Linked DNA regions of Homo sapiens. The protein of the gene in region 5 purifies or fractionates together with the protein of the main gene of each other region. This does not show direct contact. Each region holds a gene or a part of one and is shown on either strand. Other genes may lie near its edges. The genes, in order: TM9SF3, DIPK1A, LRFN3, SLC16A10, TMPRSS11B, ABHD17B and MR1.

Region 1 (3,500 bases), on a different chromosome or scaffold from region 5:
TTTTTAGTGAACAAATATGTGCAGGCCTTAATTGGGATGAGGTGAAGGAGATAGAATAAAAGACCAATATAGCATTACAAGCCTTCCTAATCAATGACAAAATTCATTCAGTTCAGTATATACACAGAGATAAGCAGGAGAAACTTTATTCTGAGATTTGCATGAAAATGAGTTAACCTGGCTGTGATATCTCCAGTATACTGATATTTGGTATAGAACTCCTTTGAGCTATATATATCTTATTACAGTTGAAAGTGTTTTAAAAAGAAACTATTTTCAAAAGGATACTCAAATCAAATGCTTGTGGAATCCCAGAAGCTCTTCAGTAGGACCTGAGAGTTCTTTGGAACAGTTTGAAAACCATTCTTCTAGACCATGTAATTCAACATAGGAATGTTTTCTTCATTTTCTCTGTAATTCTTATTTGAAATTAGAGTTCTGGTAAACTAAGGGAAAAATATATAGGTCTTTATTACAATGTGTTAAGGTTTATGAGTCTTGTAGTTATTAAGAAAGTAAAAGCAAAAATTGAGATGGAATTTATCACTCCCCATATTTACGACATATGTATAGTTCATAACATAATGCTTAAACTATCTTAAAAACACCTGCTTATTTTTCACATTTCACGTATTTTAATATGAGCATAAATTCATATTATTCATAGGCCTAGGCCTAAACTGAAACGCAGATAAATTGAGTTCCTGAGTCTGATGTTTAAAATGGTATTATGGAGCTCTGTAATTCTCACATATTTATATTTGATCTGAAAAGGAGATGACAGTACCCTTTGGCTTGTTTAAAAACACATATACACACACAAAAGGATCTAATGAAGAATTTTTACTAATATTGGTTCAAAGAGATCTTTCCTTCTTGTGCAATCACTGTGGATTTCCTACCCCATACCTCTTCATTTCTCTCAATCAGTGTCTTCACATGTTTCATTCAGTTTTTCTCTCACTTTTACTTTCTATTTATTATAACCTAAAGTGTATAATTTAAAGACATCTTAGAGGTGATTCAATTCTACTCCATTTTACAGAAGTTCAGAGTGAAATGATCTTAATTAGATGGTTGGCCGGAAAAGAGCTGATTTTATAAAGAAAAAAAGTCACAAAAATAAATGTTTCTAATTGGCCACTTTGGTTCTAAAATCTCCGTATGGTCTTCTCTGTAATTTTAGACTTTGCACTACTAATGGGCAGGAAAATATTTGTACTATTTTACTAGTGACACATAGATAGCGATCTCCTTCTATTAGGATTCCAAGGTAGTGTAGGATAGAAAAGAGTGTGGGCTTTGAGGCTGGCAGATCTGAGTTGAAATTTTGGTCTGGCTCTCCACTAGCTATGCAATTATGGGAAGTTACTTATCCTTCTCTGAGTCTCCTTTCCTTCATTTGCAAAATAAGAAAATAACACATATAAAGCTCTTAGTGCATTTTATGAGCTCAAAAAGCATAGCCAGATAAGTAAGTTGGTTATAATAATGAAAGACAATGGATAAATATATTAAAAAAGCATGACAGCTGAGAGTGAAAGAGGAGAAAAAGGGATTGTGGCAGAGATAGTCTGGAAGAATAGGAAAGAATGGAAAACCAAATTGGATAAGAACTAGTTCAACTTGTATTCAGTTTAGTTCTAATACTTTAAAGCACACCTTTTTGTTTTCATTAGTGTACTTCTTGCACAATTTTAGCTCATATTGAACTTAAACATTTTCTTTTGTGGTCAAATTGTGTTTAAATTGTGTCTCTTTTATTTGTTTATATTAATGTTATTGTTCTCTGAGTAATCACACATTTTTATTTAATTTACAGGTGGCCGTTTGTTGCATCTGTTTTTTTGTTATTCTTCCTCTAAATCTTGTTGGTACAATACTTGGCCGAAATCTGTCAGGTCAGCCCAACTTTCCTTGTCGTGTCAATGCTGTGCCTCGTCCTATACCGGAGAAAAAATGGTAAAGAGAATGCTAAATCTTATGCGATTGTTTCACACAATATATAAGTTCTTAAGGCTGTTGTGTACATGTAACTTTAGAATTGGTATGTATTTATGATAATGACAATCTTAAGTTTGAGCCTAAGAAGTTCATTTTACTATTTCCTTTAACCTACATTGTTAAGAGTAATAATAAATTATACCCTTATTCCACTTTCTGAATATCGTGCCATTTAGAGTTAAGTCAAATGCTTTTCTATGGTGTAGAAGTGGGTGTGAACTAAAGCTGCAGTTTTACTAATCTGCAGGCCAAATCTGGCCTGCTCCCTGTTTTTATCTATAAAGTTTTGTTGGAACTCAGCCATGCCCATTTGTTTACATATTCTCTGTGGCTGCTTTTATAGTACAGCATCAGAGCTGGCAGATCAGTAATGTCAGAGATACTATCACATGCAGAACCTGAAATATTTACTATCTTTCCAGATATTTTAGTACTGTACAATTTAGTGTACATTTATTACATTCCCTATTTATAGGAATAGTTGTATAGTAAGTAGACTGCATTTTTATGATAACGGAGATATATATATATAAAGTCTCTGTCCCTAGATATTTTACCAGATTATAAATACAGCATATTCAGGTGCTTATACAAATAGGTGATAATTTTGCTCTGTCCCTTCTAGACATGGAGGCATGTAGACATTTATAGAAATGGAGGATGAATAAAATAGCCCCTATAGTTTGAATTGGCCATATTCTTTTCTTTCCTTAGATTGGTGCTTATGAGAGACTTTAGTTAGAACTTTTGTAGTTTATTATTTTATTTATTTATTTATTTTATTATTATTATTATTTTTGAGATGAGGTCTCACTCTGTGGCCCAGGCTGGAGTGCAGTGGTGTGATCTCGGCTCACTGCAAGCTCCACTTCCTGGATTCATGCCATTCTTCCGCCTCAGCCTCCCGAGTAACTGGGACTACAGGTGCCCGCCACCACGCCTGGCTAATTTTTTGTATTTTTAGTAGAGATGGGGTTTCACCGTGTTAGCCAGGATGGTCTCGATCTACTAACCTCGTGATCTGCCCACCTCGGTCTCCCAAAGTGCTGGGATTACAGGCGTAAGCCACCACGCCCAGCCTGTAGTTTATTTTTTAAAGTAATTTTTTTTTTGTAAATCAGTATGTTAGGACCCATCAATATCCTTACTGGGAAGGGTAAGTTTAAAGGAAAAGCATAGTCAGAAGTCACAAAAGTTCCTCTAAGTCACTAGGGCCAGTGAAGGAGAGGTCTGGTGAGAGCTTCCTCACCAGAGATGCATTGCAATTAGGTATAGGAAGGCTTGTGTGTGCCTCTGTTTTGGGGAGTATAATCCTGGGAACCTAAATCTGAATACTAGATCTGCCTCTCATTGACTGTGTCACCTTGGGCAGATCACTTTTAACCTCTGTGTCTTGGCTTCCTGTAAAGTAAGGAAAGAAGACTACATTAAATGATTTTTAAGTTTTTTTTTCAGCTCTCAAATTTTACCATTTTCTTCTCAGTTTTTTAGTTTGT
Region 2 (2,398 bases), on a different chromosome or scaffold from region 5:
AATATTCTCTATCAAAATTAAATTTTATTAAAATTTTAAATTAAATATTCTATTCTCTTCAGTTATAGTTTAAAAAATATATATTCCTATCTTTTGTAGGTGGAACCGTCCCAAAATGTCCCTTGCTCAGAAGAAGGATCGGGTAGCTCAAAAGAAGGCAAGCTTCCTCAGAGCTCAGGAGCGGGCTGCTGAGAGCTAAACCCAGCAATTTTCTATGATTTTTTCAGATATAGATAATAAACTTATGAACAGCAACTATTTCTGTGTTAAGCTCTTATTCTTATGAACCTTATAGGAAATACCCTGAAATATTTTGGAAAAGCAAAGGAGTTGACAGGTTTTTTTCTCCAAGAAAACAAGTGTAACTAACTTTTTAAGAAAAAAAGTTGTTATTTCTTGGGCTTCTGTTTTACCTGACAGGAGTCATTATCCCTTATGTTGTATGATGAACAGCTCTCCCTAAAAATTTGGCAAGCAACAGACCAACCATCAGTGGGAAATATTTCTTCCATCCATTTATTATAACCAGATGATGAATGGGAAAAGTACCTTAAAGTAAACAAAACTGGTGCTAATCCATGGCGTTGAAGGAAAGTTTTGAGAGAAAGCTGTCCAGTGATGGTCACATAGATTTTTAACATGTTCCACTTTAGGTAGGCGAAACCTTTGAGCAGAAAATAGTGGTTCTTTTCTCCAAAAGGTGTTTAATTTTATGGAGATGTTGAAAGGTACATGCCAAATCTGAGTATACGTGTGAAAATAATATGAAAGAGGAGCAAATACTAAACCTTGTATATCAAGTTTACATGGGGAAAAAAACATTAGATAAATAAATACATTTACATGCCTCTTTAAGAAATAGCCCTTTGGCCCACAGGATATACTGTTTGAAAATGGAAAGTTATTACTAAAAAGTCTGCTATAATTTATTTTAGTCTTGCACTTACAGTCCCACTTTCACATAGTTCAAAATCAGGATATGTGGATCTTGATTGGGCCTTAAGATGTCAGTTTTGAAGGGCTCAGTCAGCTGCGTGATACTAAGATGGGCCCTTTGAATCTTTAGGAAAGTTCATCCATTTTTAGTCAATAAAATTGGTGTACTGTCAAGTATAAGATTTCTTGAAGTAAGCCACTTGAACCATTGTGAAGCTACACATAACTTGATGTCTGAATGAGGTTAAAAATGGGTGTATAAGTCTTTAATACAGTAAACCATGCTATTAACCCAACATCTGTTTTATAAAGAAGCAAGTTTAACCTGCTTTGCAGTCTTAATTTCTGTTAATGTGCAAACTTTACCATGCTAAGACATTAGTAAATTTATAAATTTTCTTGTTGAACAGCAGCTTCAATGCAAACACAATGCTTCCAGCATTGGTATTTTGGCTAAGGTAAATCTACAAATCACTCACTGTTGATGTTTATGGAATGAAGCTTTTCACAGCATTGGTTTTTAAAGTCAGTCAAAATAGTTACACAATGAATGTACTTCGGAGATGTAACAGGGCTTCTAAAAGGGCAGGAATGACATCTTGGGGACCTGTTGATCCTACACCTGCCATTACTTCAGTGATCACATACTGATGGCTTCTCAGGCCTGGGGGGAAGGAGTTTTGTGTAACTGGCCGGAATTTGAAGCCATTTTTTTTTAATGCTCAAAATTGTTCTTTAAAAGTGGCAGGTTTCTTAAAATGGTAATTATGTCCAAATGAACTAAGAGTCATTAGTGTAGGAAATTTTCTTCCACAATAATGTTTTTAGGTTATTTAGTATCAAAGAATGTTCCATTTCCATTTGATTTGCTGTGACTTTGAGAGCAATACAAGAATAAAGCTGCTTTTCTAATTCTTCACGAATTTCACTTGGAGCACCACGCAGTAGGTAGTCTTTGAGTAACTGACAAGCTTTTGCCAAGTTTGGTTGTATCACTTCTGAAGTACACTTCATTGTACTCTGATCACAGCTAGTTCTACAATCTGTGCCATAGACACAGTCCAAATCAGACTCACAGTGACGATCCTTAATAAGTTCTTTCAGGTTTGTCTCTGGCACAATTTTTCTCATATCCACCATTTTCAAATCATACTTATCATTATATCCTAGGTTTTTGGCACTAGTATCGCACATGAGGAAATTTCCGTAGGGGCCATGGAAAACATCTTCCACAAATTCTAGAAGTCCTATGGCTATTTTGGCCTTTCTTGGCCATGATGGTGTGAACAGCTGATCCATGCTTCTTCTGAACCCAGATGGAATAAAAAGTTCAATGACCCAAGGAAGGCTTATTCCATAAAGAGAGGTATATTCAACACTTTCCATCACATAGAGGTCACCACAGAATCCCATTAATTTGGGGGTATGTTCTTTATCTTGAAGTATCACCATGAGAAGAAAT
Region 3 (3,500 bases), on a different chromosome or scaffold from region 5:
TAGTGAGACCCCATCTGTAAAAAAAAAAAAGAAAAAAGAAAAAATGTCCCATAGTGGGGACTTGGAATCATCCCCCACAAGAAGCCGTCTTAACCCCAGCAGCGTCAGTTCCCATCTCTGCTGACAAAGCCCTCATTTCTATTTCCAGCTTCAGCCTCAGACCAGGGGTCCTGCACCCTCCTGAATGCCACATCCTGGACATCCTCAGGGCCCCCTACACCTACCAAGTTCCCCACTGGCCATATCATCTTTCCCAAACCTGCTCCTCCTCCCTGGTCCTATATGAGGGCAGTCCCCACCATCTTCCTGCCCCACCCCATGGCCCCGCAGCTCCATAACCCACCGCCTCAGCTTCCCACAGTTTCCCGAGTGTCTCTGTCAACCCACTCCCTTTTCTTGTTCCCTAGCCCAGCTGGTCCAACTTCGTCCTCACCCACCCAGGTCCCTGCCCCAGCTTCCCCTGGGGCTCCCAGCTTCAGTCTTCCCCTTGGGTCCACCCTACTCATAGCACTAGAAGGATCTTCCTGAAGCCCCAAACTGACCCCATTCCTCCCTTGCATACAACCCTCCATGGCTCCCTGGTATCATCAGGCCAGAGTCTGAGCTCCTCAGCCTGGAGGTCCTAGACCCTGCTCAACCCTCCTGCCTCACCTCTACCATAGCACCCCCAGTGCCCAGGGCACACCACCACCTTGCTTGTGCTGTGCCCTCTGCCTGAAAGAGCTTTCCTTCTGCTCTTTGCCCAGTTATCTCCTTCATATGTCATTCTCAGATCACATGTGTCCTCCTCCAGGAAGCCCTCCCTGACCACACCTGGGGCTGAGCAAGGGTACCTCTTCTGGACTGTCACAATCCCCCAGGCTTCCCTCATCCCCACATCCCTGGTCACTCTGTGCTATCACTGTCTGGGGATGTGTCTGTCTCCCATTTGACTTTAGGCCCCTGCGGGCAGGGCTCAGGGCTATCTGGATCACCACAGCATCCCCCAACCCAGGGCATGCTCAGAGCCGACACGCAGGGAACATCTATTGTCTGAATGGATCGCCATCCTCAGCCTCCTCCGGGGTCCTCAGACTGAACTGGGCGGGGAGGGGGTGTCTCCCCAAAGGAGGCATTCCCCAGCTCCAGACCCCTGCTCCGTCCCCCAACCCCCATAGACAGAGACGAGGGCAAGGGTCTTCGCCCAAGCTTGGAAAAATAGGACTTTCTTGTTTTGCCCCGGTGTCCCCGACACCCTCCCCATCAGAGTTTTAAAAACCATGAGCGATTTGGTGAGTTTGAGGCCAGGTCCCACAGGGTGTCCGGGTCCTGCTGTCCGTGGGGCCAGAGGACCCTTAGAGGGGGGGGCGCCTGGCTAGGGTCCCACAGGTTCGTGGCCGGGCCCCCAGGGCTCGCAGTCCAGCTGGACCACGGTGTGGGCCCTGAGCGCCGCGGGCTCCGGGGCGGGCGGGGCGGGCGTGGGCGTGGGGCCCAGGGCGCCGTTGGTCTGGGAGCAAACGCTGCTAACAGGCGCGGGAATCTTGGCCTTGCCGGGGGGCTGGCCGCCGTGCACCTTGTAGCGCATTAGCAGCACGAAGATGAAGACCAGTACCGAGGCTACGATGACGCCGCCCAGCGCGATGATCATCGTGCCGCCCAGGAAGGGAGCGTGCGGCGCCCCGCATGGCCGCAGCGCAGGTTCGGTGGAGAAGCGGGCGCAGCCCACAGGCCGCGTGGCCGTGAGCCCCGTGGCGCTGTCCTCATACACGGCGAGCACGCACAGATCGTAGGTCCGGCCTGACGCCAGGTCCGTCAGCAGGAACGAGCGGCTCTCCGCCGGGATCATCCTGCAGGGCAGGCAGGTGGGGGTCAGGTCTCAGGCTGCCCAGCCCCCAACCTGTGCTTCCCCCACCAAACTCCCTGCGGGGCTAGACTTCCCACCAGTCCACTCCTTCATTTCATTCTACCCAATGAGCTCCCTCTCACCAACATCCCAATTCCCTTTGGTCTGACATCCCATTCAGCCACCTGACTGATACCCCTCCAGTCTGTTGGCCAATTTCACTCTAGCCCACCCTCTCACACGTCCTCATAGCCTGCTGCCCATTTTCACTCTAGTCCCACCACCCAATTTCTCTAACAGCTCACCACGTGAGTTCTTCCAATCCATCCTGTTTCTTTTCTTTCTTTCTTTCTGTTTTCTTATAGACAGGGTCTTGCTCTGTTGCCCAAGCTGGAGTGCAGTGGCATGATCACAGCTCACTGCAGCCTCTGACTCCTGGACTCAAGCCATCCTCCGGCCTCAGCCTCCTGAGTAGCAGGAACTACAGGTGTGCACTACCATGCCCAGCTAATTTTTAAATTTTTTGTAGAGACAGGCTCTTGCTATATTGCCCAGGCTGGTCTCAAACTCCTGGCCTCAAGGCAGTCCAGCCTCCTGCCTTGGCCTCCTTAAGTGTTGGGATTACAGGCGTGAGCCACCACACCTTGCCGGTTTCATTTTATACCCAACTGCCCAATTTCCCTTTTGCACTGCCCACTCAATTTCCCTCCAGCCTGCAGCCCAGCTCCGCTCTAGCCTCCCTGCCCAATTTTGCCCCAATCCTCTGCCTGATTTCACTCTGGTCCCACTGCCAGTCATCTCTCCAGTTCACCACCCAATTCTGCTCTAACCCTGTCCAATTTCCATCTAATTTAATCCTTTTGTCTTCTAGCCACCCCCATCCAATTTCCCCCACATTTTACCTCCCAGTCTCCTCCAGACGCTTGCCAATTTCCCTCTGGTTCCCCTATTTCCTGCAGCCTATGCCAAATTTCCCTTTTCCAGCTGCCTGATTTTCCTCTAGTGTACAGCTAGGATTCTCTCCAATCAAACCACCTGATCTCCCTGTACCCCTGTTGCCCGATTTCCTTGTAACCTGCCAATAAATGTCCCCCTAGCCCTATTGCCTTATTATGATGACTGTATTGATAGCCTGTTTTCCAATGAGTCCTGTCGTCTGATTCCCTTTTCATTAAACTAATGTGCCTCCGTCACTACTGCTTTCTTTTTCTCCCTGTTGCCTTATTTCTTTCCGGCTCTGTCACCTGCTTCTCTTTTATCTCTGTTGGCTGGTTTCTATTTATCTTTTTCTTTCTTGTTTCCTTTTAATCCTTACCACCCAATTTCACTATAGTTTCTTTTGTAGTTGGGCACCCTGTTGGAGAGTTGACTTATCACCTGTTTTATTCCTAGGCTATTCTAATGAGAGAGGTACAGGGAACTCCGTGGCCGCCTGGGGCAGGGTGACTGTCTAGGACAGCATTCATCCCATTCCCCACCTGGCAAGGTGGCCAGGACTTGTGTGACTTTTTTTTTTTTTTTTTGAGACGGAGTCTCACTCTGTCACCCAGGCTGGAGTGCAGTGGCACAGCCTCGGCTCACTGCAACCTCCGCCTCCCAGGTTCAAGCAATTCTCCTGCCTCAGCCTCCTGAGTAGCTGGGACTACAGGCGCGTGCCACCACACTCAGCTAATTTTTT
Region 4 (3,500 bases), on a different chromosome or scaffold from region 5:
GCAAGCTTCCATTCTCTCTGCCAAATATAACTCATGTTAACGTAGAAAAGTGTTATCATTAGTTACCAGAGCAAATCCAGTGTACTGGATTGTGAATGCATAGTCTTTCTAATTAGGAAAATGAGAGTGTGTATTGTCTTCTTAATTTACATTTATAAAATCCTCATAAAATACAGTTAAGTCAGGGTCTTTTAAAAGAGAAGAATTCAACTGAAACCTGTCATTCTCTAGCCGGGCATGGTGGCTCATGCCTGTAATTCCAGCACTTGGGGAGGCTGAGGCAGGTGGATCACTTAAGGCCAGTCTGGCCAACATGGTGAAACTCCATCTCTACCAAAAATACAAAAATTAGCCGGTGTGGTAGTGGGCACCTGTAGTCCCAGCTACTCAGAAGACTGAGGCACGAGAATCACTTGAGCCCGGGAGGCGGAGGTTGCAGTGAGCTGAGATCGCGCCACTATATGGAGCCTGGCAATAGAGCAAGACTCCATCTCAAAAAAAAAAAAAAAAAAGAAACAAAGAAAGAAAAAGAAACCTGTCATTCTCAATTCATCTGAATCCTACCTACAGAACATTAAAGAGACCCGTATGTCTCGAACTCCTGGCCTCAAGCAATCCGCCTGCCTTGGCCTCCCAAAGTGCTGGGATTACAGGTGTGAGCCACGGCGCCTGGCCAAGGAGACCCATATGTTATTTTACTTAGGTGTTACACAATCAGACCAACGATGGTGCTGAGAGCCCTTGATAAATCATAGACCTGAGATTTGCTGACAGTGACCCAGCCGCAGTACTTATTGTTTATGTTAAATCTGAAAGACAAACAATGATACTTTCAGTGATAAATTTCAAATAATTATAAAAATATAACTGTGCAAATAACTCATTATCCATGTTTTAAGATTGATGACTCTCAAAACTCTGATTTTAGCCTGAAAGTTGCGAAATAGTTTCAAATGTCCAAATGTCTACATAAGCCAGCTCAATAGGAAGCTATTATATATAACTTTTTCACATTGCCTCAAAGTTACAGAATATATTTAAATCCCTCACTTTGTGCTAGAAACATTGACAAGGGACTTTTTCTTTAAAATTATTACCTTGGGAGGTTGTGTTCATTAGAACATTCTCATTTGGTGATCATTTTCTTGTGAGTTTCGTAATTTAAAGTCTTATATGTTAACAAAAATTGCATACCTCTAACTAGATACTGGAACTCAATAATCACTGTATAGGTGAGCTTTTTTCCTCAGTCATGTATATAACATGCAACATGCATAACGTTGCTGGCTGTATACATTTTCTATTGTGTTGTATATTAATATTTTTAAAAGAAAAATAATTTTGAAAGGAACATGAAGTATAGCACCAATCTTGATCTAATAATCTTTGGTAGAAAAAAAAGAGGCACCAACTATACAGTCTGTTCATAGTCCAGGGTCAAAATGCAGCACTATTTTTTTTTTTTTTTTTTTTGAGACAGAGTTTTGCTCTTGTTGCCCAGGCTGGAGTGCTATGGTGCAATCTTGGCTCACTGCAACCTCCACCTCCTGGGTTCAAGCAATTCTCCTGCCTCAGCCTCCCGAGTAGCTGGGATTACAGCATGGAGCCACCACGCCCGGCTAATTTTGTATTTTTGGTAGAGATGGGGTTTCTCCATGTTGGTCAGGCTGGTCTCCAACATCTGACCTCAGGTGATTCGCCTGTCTCGGCCTCCCAAAGTGCTGGGATTACAGGCATGAGTCACCGTGCCCGGCCCAGCACTATTAATAACAAACCCTCCATTCCTGAAATAACATTTCAATATAGACTGAATTATGAAAGATACTTTGACTCATTAGGGAAGATCACAGTAGAAAGGTTTTGTGTTTACACATTTAAAATATTTAACAAACTGACTCTTCTAATGACGGATACTGAAAAATATCTAGTAAAGAATAAAAGTCATACATCACAGGCTCCAAAATAGTATTACCAATCTAATTTGAGTTCTAAGTGTTATTTTATATTGGTAGTTCCTATCGCATACATGTTTAGGGACATTGAACTCCAAAATACTCTTTTTATAGCACTCATATTGAAAGGCAAAGCAACTTCTTTGGGTAGACTGGGTTAACTCCTACACTATTGCCACACTCAAGAACAGCATTTTAAAAAACTCCAGTGAGTCAAAAATTCATTGTCCCAGTCCTTGTTCTACTAGGAAGGAGTGTCTCTTACAGGAGTTTAATGTGTAAGTTGTCAGGTTTGGGCACAGCTGTACAATCTGTCATCACTGATCATCTACCCTCTTGCCAATGAAAACAAAACTTTTTCATAATCAAGCTTCCAGTGTAACTTGAAAAGCCACTGGCGAAGCATTCTAAGTGTTCATTAGAATCTGAGTGTGTCTAATTTAGAATCTAAGTGTATCTAGATTCTGAATTTCTTCAGGTTTTTCTTTGTCAGATCCACAGGCCATATTAGTTGTTATTCCTTTTTTGTTACTTTTACATCCGTTTATCAGAACAAAGCACTTAAGAAATTTTACTGATATTTTGACCCCACTAACAATTTGCACCCCCCTTGCTTTTTAATCCCAGAATCACCATTAGCTCCCTTCTGATGAAGCAGGAGTTGACTCAGCTGGGCTTTCAGCTGGACACGGAAAGCGGAGGTAGATGAATTGTCATGATCAAGTGGGTGTCATCAAGTACTTAGAAAGGTTTCATTTTGTTCCTACTGTCTTTCCAACTTACTAATAAAAATATTGAAATCTATTTCAAAAATGAGGTAGCCTCATGTTATTTTATATCTGTCAGGAATATAGTACCATGGGGAATTTTATTTCCCCAGAAAGCAAGATTACACCCCTTTAGTATGGAACACTGAACTTTAAAAGAGGTGTCCTTGAACGTGTGGAAGTGAAGACAAAGTTTACGATTTAAAATTTGATAATTTTAAAAAAGGCAAGCTAAGTAAACTACGTCCTGAGTTTCAAGATTTTTCTGAGTGATTCAAAGATGTCATGAATTTTCCAGGAGTCTTTACTGTCTCAGGAGGAGTCATCTGATAAAATGCACATTGATGGTGGGTCCATAATTGTGGTTCCGACACTTATGCAAGCTTCACACTTAACTGCGAGCATTCGGCTTTGTTCTTGAGAATCGTGACCTATTGTTCTATAGTATATTTATAACACAAAGCATTAATCTCTGCCAACTAATAATAAACAGGTCGTGGCTATGAAATTATAGTGAGCCCAGGGCCTGCTTGTCTACCTTGTTATTATTTGCTCCAGAACCATTCTTAAATTCAGCTCTAGACAGTCTTTTTAGACCAAGCTATCAACAAAAGTCAGCATGTATAGTAGAGCAGAACAAATTTTTTTTTCCTTTTTGTAGACAAGGTCTCATTTTGTCACCCAGGCTGGAGTGCAGTGGTGCAACCACAGCTCACTGCAGACTTGACCTGCTATGCTCAAGCAATCCTCTTGCCTCAGCCTCCTGAGTAGCTGGGACTAC
Region 5 (3,500 bases):
AGTTAGGACTGACCACCACCAATAACCTTATAATTCTTTTGCAGGTATAAGATTAAAGATTTGTATATAATGACTCTTGCCCAGAACAGAAATTTGCTAGATACAATGATACTTTCATTCATGGAGAACTTGATCTTTCTTTTTCTTTTTTTTTCTATTTCCTTCGTTCCTTCCTTTCTTTCTTTCCTTTCCTTTGTTTCTCTTTTTCTTTATGTTTGTTTTTTGTTGTTATTGTTATCTAAAATCAAGGTTGTATGATATATCACCTACTTTCCTTTCATAAAATCTTAAATGAACTTGTACTTACAGAAGTTTGATGACCTCAGATTTGACATATTCCTTATATATACTGGAATTTTGAAATGCATTTAACATCTGACAAGAGAAAAAAAACAGTCATCATGTATGTTTCAATCAAATTTATAATAAAATTAATTTTAAAAATCTCTGATTTACCTTAGTCTCAATATCTTTGCTTAGATTTGTGCTGGCTTGTGAAGCTGCGTTTTCACAATTATCATTGTATGTGACTCCAGAAATATGAAAATCACCTTGATAATAGTAAGTCTTCTCTGCAAAATTAAGAAAAAAAAACCTCAAAGAATTTTAAAGTGGAAAGTGACTTTAAAGCGATTTATACCTCTGCCTCAACATTCCACCCAGCTTTAGAAATAATCCATTTATACCTCTGCCTCAACCATTTATACCTCTGCCTTAACATTTATACCTCTGCCTCAACATTTATACCTCTGCCTTAACCATTTATACCTCTGCCTCAACATTCAACCCAGCTTTAGAAATAATCCAAGGGAGGGAGAAAAATAAAAGGAGAGGAGTGAACAATTGTTTATTCCAGAAATGGCAACTCCATATCATTCATTCAATGATCCCCGCTTTCCCTTTATGTGATAATAGACATTACTGTCCTGCTAAGTCCAGATATACCCTCAGCACCCTCCTCAAAACAGCAATGCCCACAGTCACTAACAATCCACCTGAGTATGCACTAGATATAAAACATCTTTTACATGTATAGTCTAAACTCAGCCTAGCAATTACCCAATTAATCTTTCTAAGCAATTCTAATACAGGAAACATACAAGCATCAGTCACCCTTCACTTTCTGGATGATATACACTGTCTTGCACCCTTTTGTATGCCCTTTGCCTGCTGGCCTGGTTTCCATTCCTTGATGTTATTCCTGGAGGACACCATGGTGCCATTATTATTATTATTATTATTATTATTATTATTATTATTATACTTTAACTTCTGGGATACACGTGCAGAACATGCAGATTTGTCACATAGGTATACACGTGCCATAGTGGTTTGCTGTACCCATCAACCTGCCATCTACATTAGTTATTTCTCCTAATGCTATCCCTCCACTAGTGCCTCCACCTCCCTGCCAACCCTGGTGTGTGATGTTCCCCTCCCTGTGTCCATGTGTTTTCATTGTTCAGCTCCCACTTATGAGTGAGAACATGTGGTGTTTGGTTTTCTGTTCCTGTGTTAGTTTGCTGAGAATGATGGTTTCCAGCTTCATCCATGTCCCTGCAAAAGACATGAACTCATTCTTTTTATGGCTGAATAGTACTCCATGGTGTATATGTGCCATATTTTCTTTACCCAGTCTATCATTGATGGGCATTTGGGTTGGTTCTAAGTCTTTGCTATTGTGAACAGTGCTGCAATAAACATAAGGGTGCATATGTCTTTATAGTAGAATGATAATGATTTATCATCCTTTGGGTATATACTCAGTAATGGGATTGCTGGGTCAAATGGTATTTCTGGTTCTAGATCCTTGAGGAATCATCTCACTGTCTTCCACAGTGGTTGAACTAATTTACACTCCCAACAGTGTAAAAGCATGGTGCCCTTTTATTTCCCTACAGCATATGATGGGTGGTGCTTTGTGTGAGTCACAAGGTCTCATATCCCCATCTTTTCCTTTCCCCAAATATAAACTGCTTCACGTGATACATTAGGTCACCATAATTTAAAACAGGACAAGCCTCTTAAAAATAGGAATTACCAAGATGCAGTGGATTATGCCTATAGTCCTAGCAGTTTTTGAAGTCAAGTTGGGAGGACTGCTTGAGTCCAGGGGTTCAAGACCAGCCTGGACAGCATAGTGAGAGCCTGTCTCTACAAAAAACTTAAAAAATTTGCTGGGCATGGTGGCACGTGCCTGTAGTCCCAGCTACTGAGGAAGCTGAAGTGGGAGAATTGCTTGGGCCCAGGAGTTCAAGTCTACAGTGAGCTGTAATTGCACCACTGCACTCCAGACTTGGTGACAGAGTGAGACCCTCATGTCAAAAAAAATAAAATAAAAAGAACTAATATGAAAGAATACCCTGTTTTGGTTAAGTAATTAGCCATTCCTGTATTTTGAGAGCAATTGTGCTTTTGATCCACCTTTAACATACACCATGTAGTCTCTAAGTTACTGAAAAGTATGATCTCCTAAGCTGAAATAATTTATTACCCTGTAAGTTAGAAATAATTTTAAAATAAAATAAAAACTGATTTCCTATATTCCTATAGATTCTTATATTTTTCCTTATGGTAACCAATATATACAAAAGTCCAATGCCAAAGTCTGTCTGAGAAGTTACCTGAAAAGATGAATGCATATGAAGCTAGAGGAGCTAGTTCCAGCCCCATCACAAATCAGCTGTGCTGTCTTGGCATATTTAGCCCGCTGGGATTTTCTTTATTAATCACAAAAACTAAATTGCAGCCTGGTGCGGTGGCTCCCAGCTGTAATCCCAGAACTTTGGAGGCAGAGGTGAGAGGATCACTTGAGGTCAGGGGTTCAAGACCAGCCTAGCCAACATGGTGAAACCCCATCTCTACTAAAAAAAAAAAAAAAAATTAGCCAGGAGTGTTGGCGAACGCTGGTAGTCCCAGCTACTTGAGAGGCTGAGGCGGGAGAATTGCTTGAATCTGGGAGGCAGAGGTTGCAGTTTGCTGAGGTCACACCACTGCACTCCAGCCTGGGAGATAGAGTGAGACTCCATCTCCAAAAAACAAAACAAAACAAAAAACAAAGAAAAACAAACAAAAACTAAATTACAATAGATAAACTCTAAGACCCTCTTCTTTCTACTATTTTATCATTTTCATCTGTGAAGCTTGTCACCAAATGACTAAAGTAAATAATTAGAATCTGCTAACTTTGTGTTACATCCAGAATACTGAACCAGGGTATTTACAAGTAGGTAGATTAATTTGTCAAAAGTCTCATACATCATGCCCAGATTCTGAGAAACCATTATGTTTAGATTTCTGATTCCAGTTATAATTTTACTGGAGAATTCTATCAGTTCAAGGTACCATTTTAAAATTAATTTTCACTTGATTTTTACTGTGGATTGAATTGTATCCCCTCCAAAATTCATATGTTGAAGCCCTAAACACCAATGTGACTGTATTTGGAGACATGATCTTTAAGGGAGAATTATGGTTAAATGGGGTCATAAGGTTGAGAC
Region 6 (3,500 bases), on a different chromosome or scaffold from region 5:
TCACTGGATGGCCCTATCCATTAGCACCTCAGGGCAGAAACATGGTAGTCATGTTCAAGTTTTTCTCTTTAGCATCCTACACCCAGTCTGATACTCAGTTCTGTCAAATTTATGTTTCAAATTAATTCCCTTGTCTCCAATACTAGTGCCACCACCTGAGGTGTAAGGCCCTCAGCAATTTTCATCTGGATTACTACTCCTCAAACATTTCAGCCTTCTGACTGGTCACCTGCTAATACCCTCTTTACAAATTAATTTTTCATAATTTCTATGTGCTAATATATATAAAATGAAGTTTATGGTTGAGTGAACTGTGTCATGAATACTTTAAATGATGAAAAAATTCCCAAGTTTCTTGGAATTTAACTATTTTGAATATTGCTACTTACTTTGGGAATGCATCAAAACAGTAGGTCTTCTTGGTATCAGGAAAGGCAACTCGCATTCCCGAAGTCAGAGGAGAATGAAGAATAACAGCAGCACTCTCATATCGAGCAGCAAGATCCACAGACGGTACTGTCCCTATACTTTGGCCATATATAATCACATTTTCAGGGCGAATGCCATATCTACAAAGTTCAGGCGTTAAAAACAAAAACCAAAAAAGTTGGAGTGATATGAAATGTTCCATCATTCCAAAGGATTTGATCTTAGAATAAGACAATGTCAACTAATCCATTTTTTAAACTTAAGTTTCTTAGCTATTACTGTTAGTTTTAACATTACAATAAAGTCTGTATCATCAGTTTATTTCATGTGTTTCTCTACTTCATCTTTTGGAAGAATAATTGCTGAGGTATTTTAAGATTTCAATCTTAAGAAATAAATTTATTAAATAATTTATTACACTATAATATTTCAACCTAGCTTACTGCTGACTAAGCTTGGGGCATATCACTAATATTTTAATGAACTGATGTTGAATGAATAGGTCATATTTATTTTCCGTTCAGTGTAACAAAAGTTATTTATTTCTCCACACATCAAGAGTGGCTCATTTTAATTTCCAAAATTGGTCATATTGATGAACTGTTACATATAGTTATGGTATGAAATGAATATATGTATGGTTTTAGTAAAGGGCAAATTATGATTTTACGATTTTTCTTAAAATTGATCTTTGCTTAGTTGTAGAAATGGACTAATGGTTGAAAAGATAAAAAAGAATTCCAAACACCACATGGTCCAATTATTTATGATTAGACTTTACGCTAAAATTACAAGGTACTATTTTAATCCCTTTAAAATGGCCACAGGTTTAAATAGATGAAAACTCATTGACTCAATAAATATTTATTGGGTACCTAGTATGTTCAAGGAACTGCTTGCTACTTGTCTACAGTATAATCATCCCAAATGTAAACTACTGCAAGTGTAAGTACAGTGCTACCTGAGCTAATGAATGTGGGCTTAAAGGTTATAGTGACATTAAATACACCTTTCCACTTAGAAGGCAGACAGCAGTCACTCTGGCAGCTAAGAACATAACAGCTGCTTTTGGAAATCTTTTGCAAAGGTAAAATATCTTTCTAAGAATCTGGATATTCACCAGGAAAGAGCGAGGGAAACTGTCCGTGTGTTCTCTTCCAGGGGCATAATACTATTTCAACTATACAGGTAGTAACACAGCTCTCCCCATATAGTTTCTTCAAGTCAGTACTACACAAGCATTTGTATAGGACACAGAAAGTGGGGCTCTGTCTACTTCAAATTGACTCTAAATATTAGCAAACTCAGAAAAGCTTTTTTCTTTACAACAGACCTAGTTGCACATATTTCATACGAATGAAGAAATTAGGAGAATGAACATTTGCAGCATGACCACAGTTCTTGAGGCTGCATTGTTGCTGTCAGCTGAATATCAGCATTGTTGGTGGCAATCATGAAATTTGGGCTACAGCTAGCAATGACAATGCTCAAGGATAGAGTCGCAGAGGTAGCTGACAATTAAGCATGAGGGGACTCACAAGAGTAACAACTGCCTAACAGTATGAGCTAGAAAGGAGTTTAGAGACCATCTAATCTAGAGTCCAGCTGCCTAATGAGCAGATCTTCAAAGTCACCAGTAGATGACAGCTCTATAATTAGAACCCAGGTATACTGACTCCCAGTTCAGTGTTTTTTACCTCTGAAGCACACAGATGAGGAACTCAAGGACTTTGTGGGAAAGGTGCATAGTGAATGCCAGGCCCCGAGTTTCTTTTGGTCCATCAGAAGGTCAGAAATTGGAGTTATTATGGATATCCAATTTTCCCAAAAAGGACATTCCAATGTTCATTCATCCCAAAAATGAACATTATTTAAGTTCATTATTTATTTTCTCTCTCCTGGTTACTTAAGTCCTAACTTTTAATCAGGCAAATAAAATAAAAGGCATGTATTCTAATTACACACATTTCATTAGATGACAGAATTCCAGAATTGGAAAAGATCTTGGGGATCATTTAATTCAATCTCTTCATTAAACAGATGAGGAAACACAGGCTCAGAGAAGTAATATTTCCTAAAGTACCTACACTTATGAAACTCCAACTATATTTTGGTTTCAACACGAAAGAAAACACAGGTCTAAAATTCTAAAATATAAGTGCTAAAATAGTATGTGGGATTATTGATGAAATCTGCCCATTCCTGATTAACACTGGCTATCAAATATGTTAAAAAAATTAAGGCTGAAAATCATTTTTCAAAGTTTTCTTCAAATTGGTAAATGCCAAGATTAAAAGAAAAGAAAAGAAAAAAACAGTAAAGTTGACCACTTAAAAAATGGGATTTTTTCATATAGACACAGAACACTGAACTGAATACTAACATGTTTTGTTTGAGTAAAGTGACCCTTTTGCGTTACTGGGAAGCACTAATAATGAAAGCTGGCTATCAGTTTTAACTTAGCACCCTTTAAAACTTCATTATTCCACTGAAGTTAACCTTTAAAAGTGTGAACCTTATCACTCAATAAAGCTATTTTTTTAATTATAATACTTTCTTATAGTTGTTATACGTTATTCAACTGACTGACTCTAAAAAGTGGGCACTCAGTTTCTGTTTGTTTTAAGGCTTGATGGAACTGATATCAATATATGTAAAAGATTTTTATTTAAAGCAGTTTTTAATTTATCAATTAAACAATAACTTTACCATCCCCCATCAACTCTTTACCTACTACTTGCCATCTTTTTTTCCTTATTCCCCATATTTATGTTTTTATATAATTTCAGTTGATTTTAAGAATCCCTTTTATGTAGAACTTCGCTATGAGAGCATAACTTTATTACATTTCTTTGGAGGGAAAAATAGTTTTAAAGATATTTTTAATATCTTTAATAATATTAACTACTTTATTATTAAAATTGAGGAAATTTTTCCTGACTAAATGAAATCTTTAATATTTAAACATTAAATTAGAAACAGTAAGTTTTCTTTATATCCTATAGCTTCAGTCTAAAACATCCTGGAAGTCAGATATTTTATTTTCATATAATATAAAGAATAGCCTATAT
Region 7 (3,500 bases), on a different chromosome or scaffold from region 5:
CAAAAAAAAAAAAAAAAAAAAGATCAGACAAAAAAAAAAAATCAGCTCACAAAATAGTTGGATTAGCTTCTGTGCTACAAGTTTGTTTATATTTTTCTTTTCTCTAAAACTGCTTATGAAATAACTCATAATGTGCAGGTTATCTTTCAGAACTGACCACCCCAAGGCCAGGGTACCCTTACCTTGCATACTAGGAAAAACAAGAGGCCCTGAGAGGTATCTCCCAGAGCAACTGATTGTACTAGTTAGTGTATGTATGTGTGTGCATATGTGTGTGTGTGTATGACAGGGTTTTACTCTGTTGCCCAGCTGGAGTGCAGCGGCATGATCACAGCTCACTGTAGCCTTGAATTCCTGGGCTTAAGTGGTCCTCTCACCTCAGCCTCCTGAGTAGCTGGGATTATAAGCACGTCACCACTTCTTTTTAATAGAGACAGGGTCTGTGTTGCCCAGGCTGGTCTCAAATTCCTGGCCTTAAGTGATCCTCCCACTTTGGCCTCCCAAAGTGCTGGGATTAGAGATGTGAGCCACCACGCCCAGCAATTAAAATCATTGTTAGCACTTCTTTCTCCTTGCTCCTGGAGCTGGGGTGTAGCAGTTTGGCAGGGTTCAGAGTAGGTATCCCCGCCCCATGGGCTCCTCCCTCACAGGTGTTATCCTGCATGTCAGCTGCAATACTGAACAGGATGGAGGCTGGCCTCCCACAGGCTGGGGCAGCATAAGGTCCCAATGTCCCTCTGTATTGCTTTGACCTTTTACTTCCCCCTTCCCTTCCTGTGGTGGGTGAGGGCTTGGGTTGGGAGGGAAGACAGTGGAAGCCTCTGGGGTAGTCATGAGAGCCTCTTCATAAAAGTGTTGGTTCTTATGCAAACAAGAGCCAGAGATTGCATCAGAGCATGAGTTCTGTCGTAAAACCAATAGCTACCAGATTCTGCCTTCTGTTTCCCTCTGCTTACTACCTTCTACCTGCTTCTCAATCTTAAAGCACTTAAGAACAGGGACTTTGCTTTTTTCCTTTGTATTTCCTGCAAAGCTTAGCACAGGGAGCTTGGCACATGGTAGTAGCTTGGTAAATATTGGGTGAATTAAATTGTTGGTGAAACACTTTATTTCTGTGGTTTGGAATAATGAAATATGCTGAAATGAATATGAATCTATTTAACCTGGATCTTTTTTGAGACAGAGTCTCATTCTGTCGCCCAGGTTGGAGTGCAGTGGCGTGATCTCGGCTCACTGCGGCCTCTGCCTCCCTGCTTCAGGCAATTCTCCCTGCCCCAGCCTCCCAAGTAGCTGGGATTACAGGTGCCCACCATCACGCCTGGCTAATTTTTGTATTTTTTTTTAGTATAGACGGGTTTTTGCCACGTTGGCCAGGCTGGTCTTGAACTCCCGACCTCAGGTGATCTGCCTGCCTTGGTCTCCCAAAGTGCTGGGATTACAGGCGTGAGCCACCGCACCTGGCCTAAAAAATATTTTTGATTTGGCCGGGCGCGGTGGCTCACGCCTCTAATCCCAGCACTTTTGGAGGCCGAGGTGGGTGGATCACCTAAGGTCAGGAGTTCAAGACCAGCCTGACCAACATGGAGAAACCCCATCTCTACTAAAAATATAAAATTAGCCAGGCATGGTGGCGCATGCCTGTAATCCCAGCTACTAGGGAGGTGAGGCAGGAGAATCGCTTGAACCTGGGAGGTGGAGGTTGTGGTGAGCCGAGATCGCGCCACTGCACTCCAGCCTGGGCAACAAGAGCGAGACTCCATCTCAAAAAAAAAAAAAAAAAAATTATCTTTGATTCAAGGGAAGGCTGGTGAATGGAGAGTTGAACTGCAATCTGGGATCTGCAAAGGGTACTATATATATTCTGCAATTGATTTTGAAATAGTTCTATTTTTTCACATCTGGAAAGTTTTGTGGCTACACTGGAGGTACACAACTGTCTAAAGAAGGAGGACCCAAAAGGAGGAACAAGTTGTGAATATTAGTTCTCACACTTCCTTAATATTGATTTGTATATCCAATGCTTCTTCTGTGCCAGCCACTCTTCTAGGCCCTAAGCTTGTACCAGACCAAACAGATAAAAATGTCTGCCCTCATGGAGTCTACACCCTAGTCGGGGGAAGGGGAGAAGACAGACTAGAAAATAAAATATATAATTTTTTTAAAGTACAGTGAAGAAAAATAAAACTGCAAAGAGGAATGGGCAACACTATTTAAAAAAGGAAGGCGTATTAAGGAAGGTTTCCCACAAAGCTGAATTCTGAGCAAGTGCCTGCAAGGAGTTGGGGAGACAGGCAGGTGTCTGGGGACAGCAGTCTGGACAAGAAGGGCCATGCAAAGGCCCCTGGAAAGAACATGCCTGGCACATTCCAGGAGCAGCACAAAGGCCTGTGGCTGGAGTTGAGGGAGTGAGGGGAAAAGAAAGAGGGAGGAATCACTTCCATAGTTTTTCATGGGAAAAAATCCCCACGGAGAGCAGACTCCAGACAGAGAATGTGGAGAGGAGAAAAAAGAAGGAAGAAAAAAAGATGCTGTGTTGCTGAGCTAAGCTGGGTTGGTGTAGAACATCCCCTGGAATCTGGGTTTTCTATTTTTATGATCTCTGAGGTCTACATTCCTGATAGATGCCAACAAGCAAAAAAACCTCCAGTATTAACAACTTGGGGCATTAGTGCCCAATAGCAGGATTTATTCCAGTTAAGTATCACCAGCATCATCTCCAAACATAATATTTACAATTCATGTAACTTTGCTTTCTTATAAAAATGTAATTTTCACAAGAATTTGCATTATCTGAAGTTAAAAGAGGTAGATAGAGAGAAATATGGTCTGTTGACAATACTGTCCAAGTAAGTATTGTGCTTTATTTATTTATTTATTTATTTATTTATTTATTTATTTATTGAGACAGAGTCTCACTCTGTCACCCGGGCTGGAGTGCAGTGGCACAGTCTCTGCTCACTGCAACCTCTGCCTCCCAGGTTCAAGCGATTCTCCTGCCTCAGCCTCCCAAGTAGCTGAGATTACAGGCGCCTGCCACTACACCCAGCTAATTTTTTTATTTTTAGTAGAGATGGGGTTTCACCACGTTGGCCAGGCTGGTCTTGAACTCCTACCTCATGATTCCCCCTGCCTTGGCCTCCCAAAGTGCTGGGATTACAGACATGAGCCACCGTGCCTGGCTGTGTCTTTCTTTCTTTCTGGGTTTTTTTTTTTTTTAACTTCAATCTAATTCTGATGCCTGGTTTTGAAACAGTTGTTCTCCACCAGCCAGCCTTGACTTCAAAGTCCAGGCACCTAAAGGCTGGACTTGCTTTTTCAGTCACACCCATCCACCACTGGTTCAGCCCAGCGTGGCTCTGCTCCAGGACATCACAGTCCCTTCCTCTTCATTTGCCATGGGCCCAGTTACCCATCTGGTGCCTCCACAGGAACAAGTCATGCTTGCTCCTTAGCTGGGCCTTTAAAATGTTACCTCTGCTGTGGTGGGAAGTTGATTGACA

What was found.
Region 1: the proteins of TMPRSS11B (region 5) and TM9SF3 purify together in Homo sapiens (affinity purification with mass spectrometry; 2 studies listed by BioGRID and IntAct, with this or other methods). This does not show direct contact.
Region 2: the proteins of TMPRSS11B (region 5) and DIPK1A purify together in Homo sapiens (affinity purification with mass spectrometry; 2 studies listed by BioGRID and IntAct, with this or other methods). This does not show direct contact.
Region 3: the proteins of TMPRSS11B (region 5) and LRFN3 purify together in Homo sapiens (affinity purification with mass spectrometry; 2 studies listed by BioGRID and IntAct, with this or other methods). This does not show direct contact.
Region 4: the proteins of TMPRSS11B (region 5) and SLC16A10 purify together in Homo sapiens (affinity purification with mass spectrometry; 2 studies listed by BioGRID and IntAct, with this or other methods). This does not show direct contact.
Region 6: the proteins of TMPRSS11B (region 5) and ABHD17B purify together in Homo sapiens (affinity purification with mass spectrometry; 2 studies listed by BioGRID and IntAct, with this or other methods). This does not show direct contact.
Region 7: the proteins of TMPRSS11B (region 5) and MR1 purify together in Homo sapiens (affinity purification with mass spectrometry; 2 studies listed by BioGRID and IntAct, with this or other methods). This does not show direct contact.

Annotation. Positions count from the first base shown.
Region 1 is NC_000010.11:96,531,513-96,535,012, reverse strand, and holds part of TM9SF3 (transmembrane 9 superfamily member 3 precursor), read left to right. Parts: intron 1-1,822; coding exon 1,823-1,962; intron 1,963-3,500.
Region 2 is NC_000001.11:92,841,667-92,844,064, forward strand, and holds the end of DIPK1A (divergent protein kinase domain 1A), read right to left. Parts: coding exon 1,717-2,398; 3' UTR 501-1,716; downstream 1-500. Other genes in the region: RPL5 (large ribosomal subunit protein uL18), read left to right, coding at 100-199.
Region 3 is NC_000019.10:35,942,874-35,946,373, reverse strand, and holds part of LRFN3 (leucine-rich repeat and fibronectin type-III domain-containing protein 3 precursor), read right to left. Parts: intron 1,827-3,500; coding exon 1,355-1,826; 3' UTR 1-1,354. UniProt on the Homo sapiens protein: Cell adhesion molecule that mediates homophilic cell-cell adhesion in a Ca(2+)-independent manner. Promotes neurite outgrowth in hippocampal neurons.
Region 4 is NC_000006.12:111,227,003-111,230,502, reverse strand, and holds part of SLC16A10 (monocarboxylate transporter 10), read right to left. Parts: 3' UTR 1-3,500. UniProt on the Homo sapiens protein: Sodium- and proton-independent thyroid hormones and aromatic acids transporter.
Region 5 is NC_000004.12:68,235,695-68,239,194, forward strand, and holds part of TMPRSS11B (transmembrane protease serine 11B), read right to left. Parts: intron 573-3,500; coding exon 457-572; intron 376-456; coding exon 308-375; intron 1-307. UniProt on the Homo sapiens protein: Serine protease.
Region 6 is NC_000009.12:71,869,694-71,873,193, forward strand, and holds part of ABHD17B (alpha/beta hydrolase domain-containing protein 17B), read right to left. Parts: intron 570-3,500; coding exon 390-569; intron 1-389. UniProt on the Homo sapiens protein: Hydrolyzes fatty acids from S-acylated cysteine residues in proteins. Has depalmitoylating activity towards DLG4/PSD95. Has depalmitoylating activity towards GAP43. Has depalmitoylating activity towards MAP6. Has depalmitoylating activity towards NRAS.
Region 7 is NC_000001.11:181,040,483-181,043,982, reverse strand, and holds part of MR1 (major histocompatibility complex class I-related protein 1 isoform 1 precursor), read right to left. Parts: intron 1-3,500. UniProt on the Homo sapiens protein: Antigen-presenting molecule specialized in displaying microbial pyrimidine-based metabolites to alpha-beta T cell receptors (TCR) on innate-type mucosal-associated invariant T (MAIT) cells.